3 separate regions of the Homo sapiens genome follow, and all the other regions are linked to region 2. Evidence: fine-mapped expression QTL. A gene starts in region 2. Each other region holds a variant in brackets. All regions are shown on one strand. Distances are between the middles of the regions.

Region 1 (4,000 bases), 42 kb after region 2:
AGGCTGAGGCAGGAGAATCACTTGAGGTCAGGAGTTCAAGACAAGCCTGGCCAACATCGTGAAACCCCATCTCTACTAAAAATAGCCGAGAATGGTGGCGGGCACCTGTAATCCCAGCTACTTGGGAGGCTGAAGTGGGAGAATCACTCGAACCCAGGAAGTAGAGGTTGCAGTGAGCTGAGATCGCGCCACTGCACTCCAGCCTGGACGACAGAGTGAGCCTCCATGTCAAAAATAAATAAATAAATAAATAAATAAACACCTAACTAACTATGATCAGCTTCACTTTGTTAGAGGGAAGCACTGGGGACACCAGCACAGTGGTTTCCTGTTGTCAACTGTGATCACAGATGGGTTACATTAGATTTCACCAACTGGGACAACTTAGATTCAGCTCCCTGGTGACAGCCCAGCCCGGCACTGCAAGTGCTATACTGGGAAGAGTGCCAAGCTCCAGTGGCTGCTGGAGGAGCAATCTATTCTTTGGAATTGGGAAATGATCATTGGCCAGGGATTAGGAAACATGATGTCATTTTTCCCCTGTAAAACTAAAATAATGCAACTTGATTGTTCAGATTTCTGTTGACTAAAACTTACATGGTGTAAGGTTTGAAAATTATCACAGCACAGGACTAAGGGATTGTCTTATTTGCTACTTGGGACCTGGAAGAGCTGTGGCACATGTATGCACCCCTCTAACATTCATTTATTCAGCAATATTTATTCAGTGCCTACATTGCTTCATATACTATTCTGGGGGCTGGAGATACACCAGAAAGCAAAATGTATGAATATGCTGTCTTCATGGAGGTTACATCCTCAAGAAGGGAGATGTGCAATAAATATAAATGAATAAGTAAATTATAGTATATATTATGTTAAAAGATGATTAATTGCTATGGATAAAAGTAGGATAGGAGCCTGGGCAACATGGTGAAAGCCCTTCTCTACGAAAAACACAAAAAAACTAGCCAGGTGTGGTGGCACATGACTGTTGTCCCAGCTACTCAGGAGGTTGAGGTGGGAGAATCCCCTGAGCCTGGGTCAAGGCTGTGGTGAGCCATGATCACGGCACTGCACTCCAGCCTGGGTGTCTGAGACCCTGTCTCAAAAAAAAAAAACAAAAAAAGTCGGGGGGCGTGGGATATGGAGGATCAAGAATGAAGAGGGAATGCAACTTAAAATAGGGCCATTTAAAAACTTGCCTCACCTGGAAGGCACTTTTTGTTTTTTTGAGATGGAGTTGTACTCTGTCACTGTGCTGGAGTGCAGTGGCACGATCTTGACTCACTGCAACCTCCGCCTCCCAGGTTCAAGCGATTCTCCTGCCTCAGCCTCCCAAGTAGCTGGGACTATAGGTGCACGCCACCATGCCCAGCTAATTTTTGTATTTTTAGTAGAGACAGGGTTTCACCATGTTGGTCAGATGGTCTCGATCTCTTGACCTTGTGATCCACCTGCCTTGGCCTCCCAAAGTGCTGGGATTACAAGTGTGAACCACCGTGCCAGTCCAGACGGCACTTTTTAGCAAAGGCTTGCAGGACGTGAGAGAATTCAGCAAGCAGTTACAGAGGGGTGGAGGAGACTGGGCCAAGTAAATAAGAGGATGAATACTAAGAAATGAAATCAGAGAGATATCAGGGGTCAGATTTTGTGTAAGCTTACTGAATATTAGCACTTTGGTTTACTTTAAGTGAAATGCAGAGCTTTGCATGGTTTGGATCATAAGAACGGCAGGATTTGATTTGTGCCTTAACAGATCGCTATGGCCACCACATTGGGAATTGTCTATAGGGATGCAAAGATGGGAGGCCAGGTAGAGTCCACTACTGTTGCGGGAAGTCAGGGACCCCAAACGGAGGGACTGGCTGGAGCCATGGCAGAGGAACATAAATTGTGAAGATTTCATTTTAATATGGACATTTATCAGTTCCCAAATTAATACTTTTATAATTTCTTACGCCTGTCTTACTTTAATCTCTTAATCCTGTTATCTTTGTAAGCTGAGGATGTATGTCACCTCAGGACCACTGTGATAATTGTGTTAACTGTACAAATTGATTGTAAAACATGTATTTGAACAATATGAAATCAGTGCATCTTGAAAAAGAACAGAATAACAGCGATTTTCAGGGAACAAGGGAAGACAACCATAAGGTCTAACTGCCTGCGGGGTTGGGAAAAACACAGCCATATTTTTCTTGTTGCAGAGAGCCTATAAATGGATGTGCAAGTAGGGAAGATATTGCTAAATTCTTTTCCTAGCAAGGAATATTAATAATTAATATCCTGGGGAAGGAATGCATTCCTGGGGGAGGTCTATAAATGGCTGCTCTGGGAGTGTCTGTCTTATGCATTTGAGATAAGCACTGAAATACGCCCTGATCTCCTGCAGTACCCTCAGGCTTATTAGGGTGGGGGAA[A/C]AACTCCGCCCTGGTAAATTTGTGGTCAGACTGGTTCTCTGCTTTCGAACCCTGTTTTCTGTTGTTGAAGATGTTTATCAAGACAATATGTGCACAGTGAACATAGACCCTTATCAGTAATTCTGATTTTGCCCTTGTCCTGTTTCCTCAGAAGCATGTGATCTTTGTTCTGCCTTTTGCCCTTTGAAGCATGTGATCTTTGTGACCTACTCCCTGTTCGTACACCCCCTCCCCTTTTAAAATCCTTAATAAAAACTTGCTGGTTTTGTGGCTCAGGTGGGTATCACGGTCCTACTGATATGTGGTGTCGCCCCCAGCAGCCCAGCTGTAAAATTCCTCTCTTTGTACTCTTTCTCTTTATTTCTCAGCCAGCCAACACTTATGAAAAATAGAAAGAACCTATGTTGAAATATTGGGGGCAGGTTCCCCCGATACACTACAAGCATCCAGGCTAGAAGGCATGGTGCCTGGACCAGGGTGGTAGCAGGGAGGTGGGAGAAGTGTTCAGATTCTGTATATATTTTGAAGATAGAACCACCAGAATCTCCTTAGAGATTAGACATGGGTACGACAGAAAGACATCAAAGATGACCAAGGCTTTTGGATTGAGAAACTAGAAGTATAGAATTGTTATAACTGAGATAGTAAAGTCTGAATATGGAGCATGTTGAGCAGGAAAGATCAAAATATATTTAGTTTTCAAGATGTTATGTCAGAGATGTGTATCAGGCATCCAGGTGGACATACTAGCCTAGAGTTAAGAGGAGAGCCAGGCTGGAGATAGAGATGGGAACTCCCAGCATACTGAGCCCAGACGAGCTAACTAAGGGATAGCTCAAGCGTAGATAGAGAAGAGCAAAGTCCCAGTGACCATGACCTGGGGCACTCTAATATTAATTTGGAGTAAAGAAAAGCTAGCAAGAGTCTGAGGAGGACCAATCAGTGAGGAAAACCAAGAGTTAAGGGAAGCCAAGGGAAGAAAGCATATCAAGGAGAGAATGATCACTATGAAATATTTCCCATAGCCAAGTGAGGCTAAGAATCAACCAGTGGATTTCACTATGTAAGGGTCCCCTGTGACCTTGACAAAAGTTAATTTTGGCCAGGTGCGGTGGCTCACAACTGTAACCCCAGCACTTTGGGAGACTGAGGCGGGCGCATCACTTGAGACCAGCCTGGCCAACATGACGAAAACCTGTCTCTACTAAAAATACAAAAAGTTAGCTGGGCGTGGTGGTACACACCTGTAGTCCTAGCTACTCGGGAGGCTGAGGCATGAGAATTGCTGGAACCCAGGAGGCGGAGGTTGCCGTGAGCTGAGATTGTGCCACTGCACTCCAGCCTGAGCAACAGAGTGAGACTCTGAAAAGCCTCATATGTGGGTTTAAGGAAGAATGGAAAGAGAGGAATGGCAGACAGTGAGTGTAGACAGCACTTCCAGGTATTTTGTTATAAAAGGGAGAGAAGGGAAATGGACCTGCATTTGCAGTGGAAATGAACTTTAGAGAGGGTTGTTTTGTTTTCCTTTCAAAGATGGGAAAAGTAAGAATATTTATACTCTAAGCACAATGACCCAA
Region 2 (4,352 bases):
TTCCTATTCCTTTGCCTTCTCCAGCTTCTTCCTGATGCGTCTAAAGCCAGCCAAGGGGAGGTGGGTAAAGGAGAATATGCCATGGGACTCGGGACTGAGAAAACTTTTGTCTTCATTCTCAGCCCTGTTTCTTTTTTTTCTCTTTTTTTTTTTTTGAGACGGAGTTTCACTCGTTACTCAGGCTAAAGCGCAATGGCCTGATCTCAGCTCTTCACAACCTCCACCTCCCGGATTCAAGTGATTCTCCTGCCTCAGCCTCCCGAGTAGCTGGGATTATAGGCATGTGCCACCACACCTGGCTAATTTTTTGTATTTTTAGTAGAGACAGGGTTTCTCCGCGTGGGTCAGGCTGGTCTCAAACTCCCGACCTCAGGTGATCCACCCGCCTCAGCCTCCCAAAGTGCTGGGATTACAAGCATGAGCCACCGCGCCCGGCCATTCTCAGCCCTGTCTCTTCAGCTTGACTTGCTGCCTGTGATAAGCCCACTCCTTTTGAGAGGAGTGGTTCATTTAGTTGAGCTTGCTCTGCCCTTTTGAAGTCTCAGGGCCTTGAATCACCTTGCTCCTTCAGTCTAGAATGAATCTAGTCTTTCTCTCCTAACTCCACCCCTTCAGGGATCATCCAGTTATTAGAACCCTCCAAACAATTTTTCTGGAGTTCTTTGGCCCTTTTTGCAATGCCCCCAATAATCCATGCAAATACTCATTCATAAGCTCAACAAATATCTATTGAGTGCCTGCCATGGGCCAAGTCCTGTTCCAGGACCTAAACACACAACCTAGAACAAATGAAATAAAAATACTTACTCTTCTGAAATTAGTATTCTACTGGAGAAGGCGGACAAGTAGTAAAAAAAAAAATTAACAAACCTATAGGGCATGTTAGAAGAGGAAACAAGAGTAAGGTGGGATTCCTATTTAAGTGGAATGGTGGGAGAGCTTCATTGAGAAGACCTGAAGGGATGAGAGAGCGGGCCGTATGGCCACTTAGGGAAGGAGCAGGTCAGCCGGAAGTACCTGGCAGGTTACAAGAAGAGGAAGGGGTCTATCAAGATTGGAGCAGGAAAGTGGGGAAGAGGTGCGGGAGGTTACAGGGGCTAGATTCCATCAGGCCTTGTAGGCCACTATAAAGACTTGGGTTTTAACTCTGAGTGAAATGGGAAACCATTGCAGGGTTTTAAGCAAAGGAGGGTCATAATTTGACGTTTTTAAAACGTCCGTCTGGCTGTGGAGAATAGCCAAGAGAAGTAAGGTATAATCAAGAAGCTATTGCAATAATCCAGGTGAGCCATGAGGGTGGACTGGACCATGGGGGCAGGTGTGGAAGTCATAAGATTAATATGTGTTTAACTCAAGTTGTGGCATTAATTATGGCTTGCATTAAATGCATCGGTAATATGCTTCTGCGGTGGATTTTTCCACCTTAGATTTCAGGGAATGGAAGTGATGGGAGCGGGTAGGGAAGGTCTGAGGTTACTAAACAGATGGAGCCTCCTGGATCTGCAAACCTCATACGATTCTAGGCCTCTGAGCCTCTGGCGCAGCAATAATTCTGCAGCCGAGCCCACTAGCCGCTTCCCAGTGACCATGCGCAACAGGCAGGTGGGAGCCTATGGAAAGCGCGGACTTTCGGAAAGCTGCACGAGCGCGTTCGGGGAGTCCGGTTCAGCGCCTCTGCGCAGGCGCAGTGGTTCCCGCAGGCTTGCGCGCGCACTCGCTGCGGGACAAGCTTCTGGAAGCTCTTTGCGGTGGCGTTGGTGCTGTTTGCGGATGCTGATGCAGGTACTGGTCGTCCCGGGCCCCGAGTTTCGGGGCCGTGGCCGGGTCGCCGGCTCCGAGGGCGCACTTGGGGCGGGATGGGGGCCGGGAGCAGCCTACCAACGGGCTGTGCGCTGCGCTGCTGCTGCTTCTGTGGGAGGTGCGCACTCCGCTGCGGGATGGGGCTGTTGGCTTCCCTCCATCCCTCCCTGCGCCACTTGGGCACTGTTGACATTTTGGGCGGGATAATGCCTTGTTTTGTTTGTGGTGTGGCGGTGAGGGGGAGGCTCTCCCGTTGTGGCAGGATGTTTAACAGCGTCACTGGTTCTGCCCGTTAGATAACAGTACCACCTCTCGTCCTAGTCGAGCTAACCAAAAATGTGTCCAGACATTGCCAGAGGACCGCTGGGGGGTGAAATCTCTCCTTTTTTCTTCCCTCTGGTTGAGATCCTCTGGCTGCGTCACATTTTCACCGGGCCTCCTATGTAAACTCCCTGTAGACGGAGCCGAGTGTCTTAGTCATCGCGGAGCCCCAGGTGCTCAGCACGGCGCCAGGTACGTGGTGGGCGCCTAATATTTGGCAGAGGAATAAATGACGTCATGCTGCTGTGTGCCGGGCGCTGTACTCGGAAGTGGGTTGTTATTGGTATGGTAGTTGCAATGCGAGGCTGTCACATCCTTCACTTGTCGCATTGTAGTCCCGCTCCGGCTGTATTGTCATTTCCTGGACCCTCTGTGAGCGTGAGGACCCTTTCAGGCCTGTCCACGCCTGGCCCCGCAGCTCATGGCCCCTGGTCTCGTTCCAGCTCATTGTAGTTGCTCCGTCACTTATAGAATGAATGAATGAATGCAACACAGGGCAGTCTGTGTGCAAAGGAGTGCTTTGGGATCAAGCAGAGCATCACACCAGAAGTGACAGTTGAAAGGAGTCAGGCTTTAAAGACGAATAAAAGTTTGGTAGGAGAAAGAAAGCAACATTCCGAGGAGAGGGAATAGCCTTGGTGCAAAGGCTAGGAGAGTATGTAGAGAGAGAGGAGATACTAATTTATGGCTGTAGTGTCAATCGGGTAGCTAGAGCTCAAGAGGTGAGGTCATCAGACAGTGTCTCTAGATCACAATGCCATGGTCCCTGCATGTGAACTTTATCGAGAGACAGTTCGGTGGCTGGTGAGGGACTGTAAGCCGGGGAGTGATAAGATCATATTTTGCATGTTAGAAGGAATTTTTTGGCCACAGTGTGAGACTGGAGTGAAGAACCCTGTACTTAGGCAGTTTCAGAAGGATAGAATGGAGAGGTTCTTAGGAAATAAAATCGCCAGAACTTGGCGATTGATGGGAGAAGTAAGGAGGAAGAGAAATTTGAAAGTCAAATATTAAATTGGGCTTCTGAGTTGAGCAACTAGTGAGAAATGTGTGCCCTTTCATTAAGAAAGGGTAGGAGTTGTTAAATAGCTTTGTGACTGGGTCCCCTTGTGAACCTTTTCTGATAACATTTTGTTTAGGAGGAGTATTCAATCTAAAGCAACTGTTTCCTTAACCCTTAAGTAGCTCCCTGGTTTTTGACTATAAAGAAAATTATGGCTGGGCACAGTGGCTCACGCCTGTAATCCTGACACTTTGGGAGGCTGAGGTGGGTGGATCGCCTGAAGTCAGGAGTTCAAGACTAGCCTGGCCAACATGGCGAAACCCCGTCTCTACTAAAAATACAAAAATTAGCCAGGCATGGTGGTGGGCGCCTATAATCCCAGCTACTCAAGAGGCTGAGGTAGGAGAATCACTTGAACCCAGCCGGGGCAGAGGTTGCAGTGAGCCGAGATCGCACCACTTCACTCCAGCCTGGGCACCAAGAGCGAAACTCCGTCTCAAAAAAAAAAAGAAAGAAAGTTATCCTTTTAATTGAGCAGGGCTTTTCTAGGCCTTTGCTGGTATGTGTGTGGATATATTTCTCTGAACCAAACCAAGAACGATGTTTTTAGGACTAACAACAGTTTTTTTACTTATTTAATGCCTTAATATTTCTTCTTGACAGTTTCTGCAGGACTGTAAACTGGATTCCTGGAACCTTTGATATTCCTGGCTGTGTATAGTGCCTGTTGGTGGACTGTACTGATACTCAACTAGAGTGTGAAGGGACTGGATTCCTGCCCCTGAGACACAATGCAAGCTGTAGTGCCCTTGAACAAGATGACAGCCATCTCACCAGAACCTCAAACTCTGGCCTCGACTGAACAAAATGAGGTCCCAAGAGTGGTTACTTCTGGGGAACAAGAAGCTATTTTAAGAGGAAATGCTGCTGATGCAGAGTCTTTCAGACAGAGGTTTAGGTGGTTTTGTTACTCAGAAGTAGCTGGACCCAGGAAAGCTCTGAGTCAACTCTGGGAGCTCTGCAATCAGTGGCTGAGACCAGACATTCACACGAAAGAACAGATTTTAGAGCTTCTGGTGTTTGAGCAGTTCCTGACCATTTTGCCTGGGGAGATCAGGATTTGGGTAAAGTCACAACATCCTGAGAGTAGTGAGGAAGTGGTGACCCTAATAGAAGATTTGACCCAGATGCTTGAAGAAAAAGGTGAGATTTATAGATGGAGGGAGGA
Region 3 (4,352 bases), 91 kb before region 2:
TCTCCTCGTGTGTGAATTAGAATCTATTCAGCAACTCTTTTCATGAATGTAATTTTCACTGTATTAACCATAATACATACATAGTCTTTATTAAAAGTAATCTCGAATGGTTTGAGACACAGAAAAAAATAAAAATTAGTTTCTTGGAACTGACACTTTTCTTAACATCAATTCTTTAAGTTCATCTACCTAGCCAAAAGTCTCATTGATTGTGATGACATTCCTAACCTATTGCAGCTATAAACAGCATCTCCACACAGATTTTCTTCTCTGTCTTACACAGAATTCAACTCTTTAGCAAACTTGATTACAAACTAGGTATATTTAATAATCTCCTCTAAGTTGAATGCCTCATTACAAAAAATCCTTAAACAAAAAATGTGTCAAGTAAGTTTTTAGAAATGTAGTCCTTTCAATCTTGAAAGTTTACAGGGAAGTAGTTACCTCTGTTTGCTTTTCAATTCCAGGTCTGCTGCCGTTGCCACACTGTGGCGTGTATCACTAGAGGCAATCACCAAGTGGAGAACAGCTTCAAGTTCAGGCACCTGTTCAGCTTCTATGAATTTCACGATTCCCAATTTGCACTGTAGATAAATGAAGGGAAGGAGAAAGAACAGTCAGGGGAGCAAAGGACACCCACTGAAAGTACTGCTTAACATATCAGTGTGGTCACAAGCCAAAGATGAGCAGTAACAACAGTAGCAGCTCCTACTTAGGCTTACAATGTGCCGGGGACTGTACTAAAGCACATATATTCATAATTTCACTTAATCCTCACAATAATAAATCAATCATTATACCCATTTTTTAGCTAAAAATACCGAGGCAAGGCTTAAAAGATTAAGACACTGGTAAACGACGATGGCAGGATTCAAACCCAAGCCTCTCTGACTCCAAAATTATTATGATACACAGCCTCCCTAGTGAGGTTACACAGCCTCTCTAGAGTGATGAAGTCTTGAAGTCCAAATTTGGGGCCTCCAGATAAGAGGGTGGTACACTAGGAATATAGTGCTCCATGGATTTTTCTGACAGTTCAAAAAAGAACTAAACAACTCACATTCCATGGAGTTTCACTCTATTGCTTACATACAAAGGATATGACTTCAAATGTTAGCTACTCAATGCAAGTGAAATTCTAATCAAACAGTTTTCAATTTAATTGACTGGCTGAAATGAAACAGACTAGAGAGATTCTGCTTAGAACTTCATGCAATGTGAAGATGCTATGAATTTCACTACAAATGACTCTATTTAGGATAAATACACCTGAAAAAATAAAGTTTCATTTTCATCTTAAAAAATCAGTCACATAACAGTTTTTACATATACTAGGATTAATAAAGTTTACAATTATTAAATGAGAAAAAAATGCAACTTAAAAAAGCATAACAGATCAAAAAAGGGCCTGCCTTCCCTCCCCTGCTCGATACAACTTACTTTTAACAACAGCTACAACAGAAAAGATTCAAACATTTGTACAGCCACAAAAAGGACACATGGAAGTCAAGTACACAAAGATATAAACTAAACAAAAAATGTGTAAAGAAAACTGAAAATGATACAGATGTCCATCAATAGGAGACTGGTTAAAACATATCACATATAATTGTAAACAAACATTAAAAAGAATTACTTTTTTAAAAATCCAAAATATTATTCAACATAAAAAGCAAACTACAAATAATGTATTACATGACAAGTAGAAATGTATTGTTTAAAACGGTGAACACACACACATGCACAGAGCAAAACTGTAGACAGATGACAAACTAGTGTGACAGGATTCCAGTTAA[CT/C]TTTTTTTTTTTTTTTTTTTTTGAGACAGAGTCTCCCTCTGTCGCCCAGGCTGGAGTGCAGTGGTGCAATCTTGGCTCACTGCAACCTCTGCCTCCTGGGTTCAAGCAATTCTCGTGCCTCAGCCTCCCCAGCAGCTGGGGCTACAGGCACACACACCGCCATGCCCGGCTAATTTTTGTTTTTGTTTTCTTAGTAGAGATGGGGTTTTGCCATGTTGGTCAGGCTAGCCTCGAACTCCTGACCTCAAGCGATCTGCCCAACATGGCCTCCCAAAGTGCTGGGATTACAGGCATGAGCCACCACATCTGGCTTTTTTTTTTTTTTTTTTTTTACACAGAGTCTTGCTCTATCGCCCAGGATGGAGTGTCATGGCACAATGTCAGCTCACGGCAACCCCCACCTCCTGGGTTCAAGTGATTTTCATGCCTCAGCTTCCCAAGTAGCTAGGGTTACAGGCATGCACCACCACGCCCAGCTAATTTTTCTATTTTTAATAGAGACGGGGTCTCACTCTGTTGCTCAGGCTGGTCTCGAACTCCTGACCTCAAGTGATCCACCCACCTCAGCCTCCCAAAGGGCTGGGATTACAGGCCCGAGCCACGACACCCAGCCCCTTAATTTTTAATTTCTCTACTATTCTTAACTACTTGAATATTTACATTGTTTATAATTGGAAAAAACATGTTTTCCTTGGAAGAAAAAGTATAAAACAAAGAGATATTTTAAAATTAGAGGAAAATAGCTTTCATCCCTGAAACTAAACTGTTCGTTTCAGCACTAGATTATGAAACTGACAAAACACATACAGAGGCATATTGGCAAATAATGACCAATTTAAGATTGTAATTGAACAATAACAATTTTTCTCCAGCATTTGTAGCTTTAACCCTTAGATAATCCTAGGTTCAAAGCCTGGTACTAAAAGTGAGACCCTGGTAAATCTCAAAACCTCCATGCCTTTCAGAAAATGGAACTAACAATTTCTATACCTTACTGGGTTGCTCCGAGGGTTAAATGAGATATTGTATTCAAAGTACCCGGTACGGTGCCTGTCACATAGATTGCACTCAATAAAGAGTAGCTTCAGTAAATCTTTTTTTTTTTTTTTTTTGAGATGGAGTCTTGCTCTGTCGCCCAGGCTGGAGTGCAGTGGCACGATCTCGGCGCACTGCAAGCTCTGCCTCCTGGGTTCACGCCATTCTCCCACCTCAGCCTCCTGAATAGCTGGGACTACAGGCGCCCGCCACCACGCCCAGCTAATTTTTTTTTTTTTTTTTTTTTTAAGAAGAAACAGGGTTTCACCATGTTAGCCAGGATGGTCTCGATCTCCTGACCTCATGATCCGCCCACTTTGGCCTCCCAAAGTGCTGGGATTACAGGCATTAGCCACTGCGCCCGGCCTCTGTTAATTCTTTACCTTTCTTACTTACATAATAGTTTAAGGAGGAAAAAAAAAAAAGATCCATAAAACATGAAGAAGGAAATCAAATCAATTATATCCCTCACTCAATAAAACATTCTATAAATTTGTGAATGGCAAGAATGCCCCACTTGCCTCTTTTCCCCTCTCCTGGGAATACTGTTTTAATCAATGGTCACTTACATTTCCCAAAAAAAAAGGGATCAAATCATTTAGACTGCCATGGAGAAATAAAGGAAGGATTAGAAGACTAACCCATGTTGCTTGAATTCCAAAATAATTACATACTGATCTCATCTGTTCTTCCCTGAAGTGCCTGATGACACAGACACAGTAAGGCACCTTCTCTGTAGAGCACCAGTCATTTTTAAAAGCTGCTCAGAGAACATCTGTGTCCTGTTTAAATCCAGAATAAAATCCTTAATGCCAATTTTTAAATTCCCAAGAAGTAATATAACAGGGAGTCATGCTTTTCCCCACATTGTCACCTGTGAAGTGCTGGGGCTCCTCACTTTACATAAAACGTACAGCCCTTAAAAGTTGAATAATGTAAGAAAAATTGTATTTTAACTGCACCATAAAAGCTAGATGAAAATTAAACCTATAATTAAAAAATTAAAATTACAAAAGTTAAAAAATAAAAAAAAATAAAATGACAAAAGTTAAACATATTCAATTTATAAGTGAGTTGTGCTTTATACTTGACATATGTAAGCAGTATTAGAAAAACTAAACAGTATGTCCCACTCCTCCCTGCCCCTAGGGCTTAATAAATAACTAGCATGAAAAGAACACATTACATCAACTGCTTCTTTCAAACATATTTCACTGGAGAGCCTGAATATACTAGAATTATGTTTTATACGGTTCATGAACTTCATAGGGGAAAGTGTCCACAATCAACTACTATTATGAGCAAGCCTTGTGTGATACCTGTTCCAATTGTTCAGGTGTCCATGGGTTATCACCAATAACTCGTTTGGCTGCATAAAAGCTCATTCCCGGAGGAGGCTGTGGGATTCCAGAACCTCCGCCACTGTTTGAAGAAGAACCCTGTGCTGAAGATGAATTTTGGCGACTCTGGGATTCATTTAACACGTAACTGGAAAGGAAATAACACTTTAACCCTCTATA

Evidence for each region. PIP is the estimated chance that this variant, and not a neighbour inherited with it, causes the effect.
Region 1: its variant is the best candidate, but not a certain one, in a credible set for the expression of ZNF483 in esophagus mucosa (GTEx, PIP 0.61).
Region 3: its variant is the best candidate, but not a certain one, in a credible set for the expression of ZNF483 in whole blood (INTERVAL, PIP 0.69).

Annotation. Positions count from the first base shown.
Region 1 is chr9:111,565,973-111,569,972 of GRCh38, forward strand. All of the region lies in intron 9 of PTGR1 (prostaglandin reductase 1), which reads right to left. It also overlaps a transcript of ZNF483 not described here. Among named protein-coding and RNA genes, the nearest start is that of PTGR1, 32 kb to the right of the region's middle. The variant A/C (reference allele first, on the strand shown) is at 2,424.
Region 2 is chr9:111,523,481-111,527,832 of GRCh38, forward strand. It overlaps ZNF483 (zinc finger protein 483), which reads left to right and starts at 1,699. Exons shown (of 6, transcript NM_133464.5): 1 at 1,699-1,782; 2 at 3,788-4,327. The coding sequence starts at 3,916. RefSeq lists a silencer at 1,602-1,951 and enhancers at 2,052-2,251, 2,363-2,862.
Region 3 is chr9:111,432,789-111,437,140 of GRCh38, forward strand. ECPAS (Ecm29 proteasome adaptor and scaffold) reads right to left here. Exons shown (of 50, transcript NM_001364929.1): 7 at 4,152-4,320; 8 at 445-584. Among named protein-coding and RNA genes, the nearest start is that of ECPAS, 49 kb to the right of the region's middle. The variant CT/C (reference allele first, on the strand shown) is at 1,797.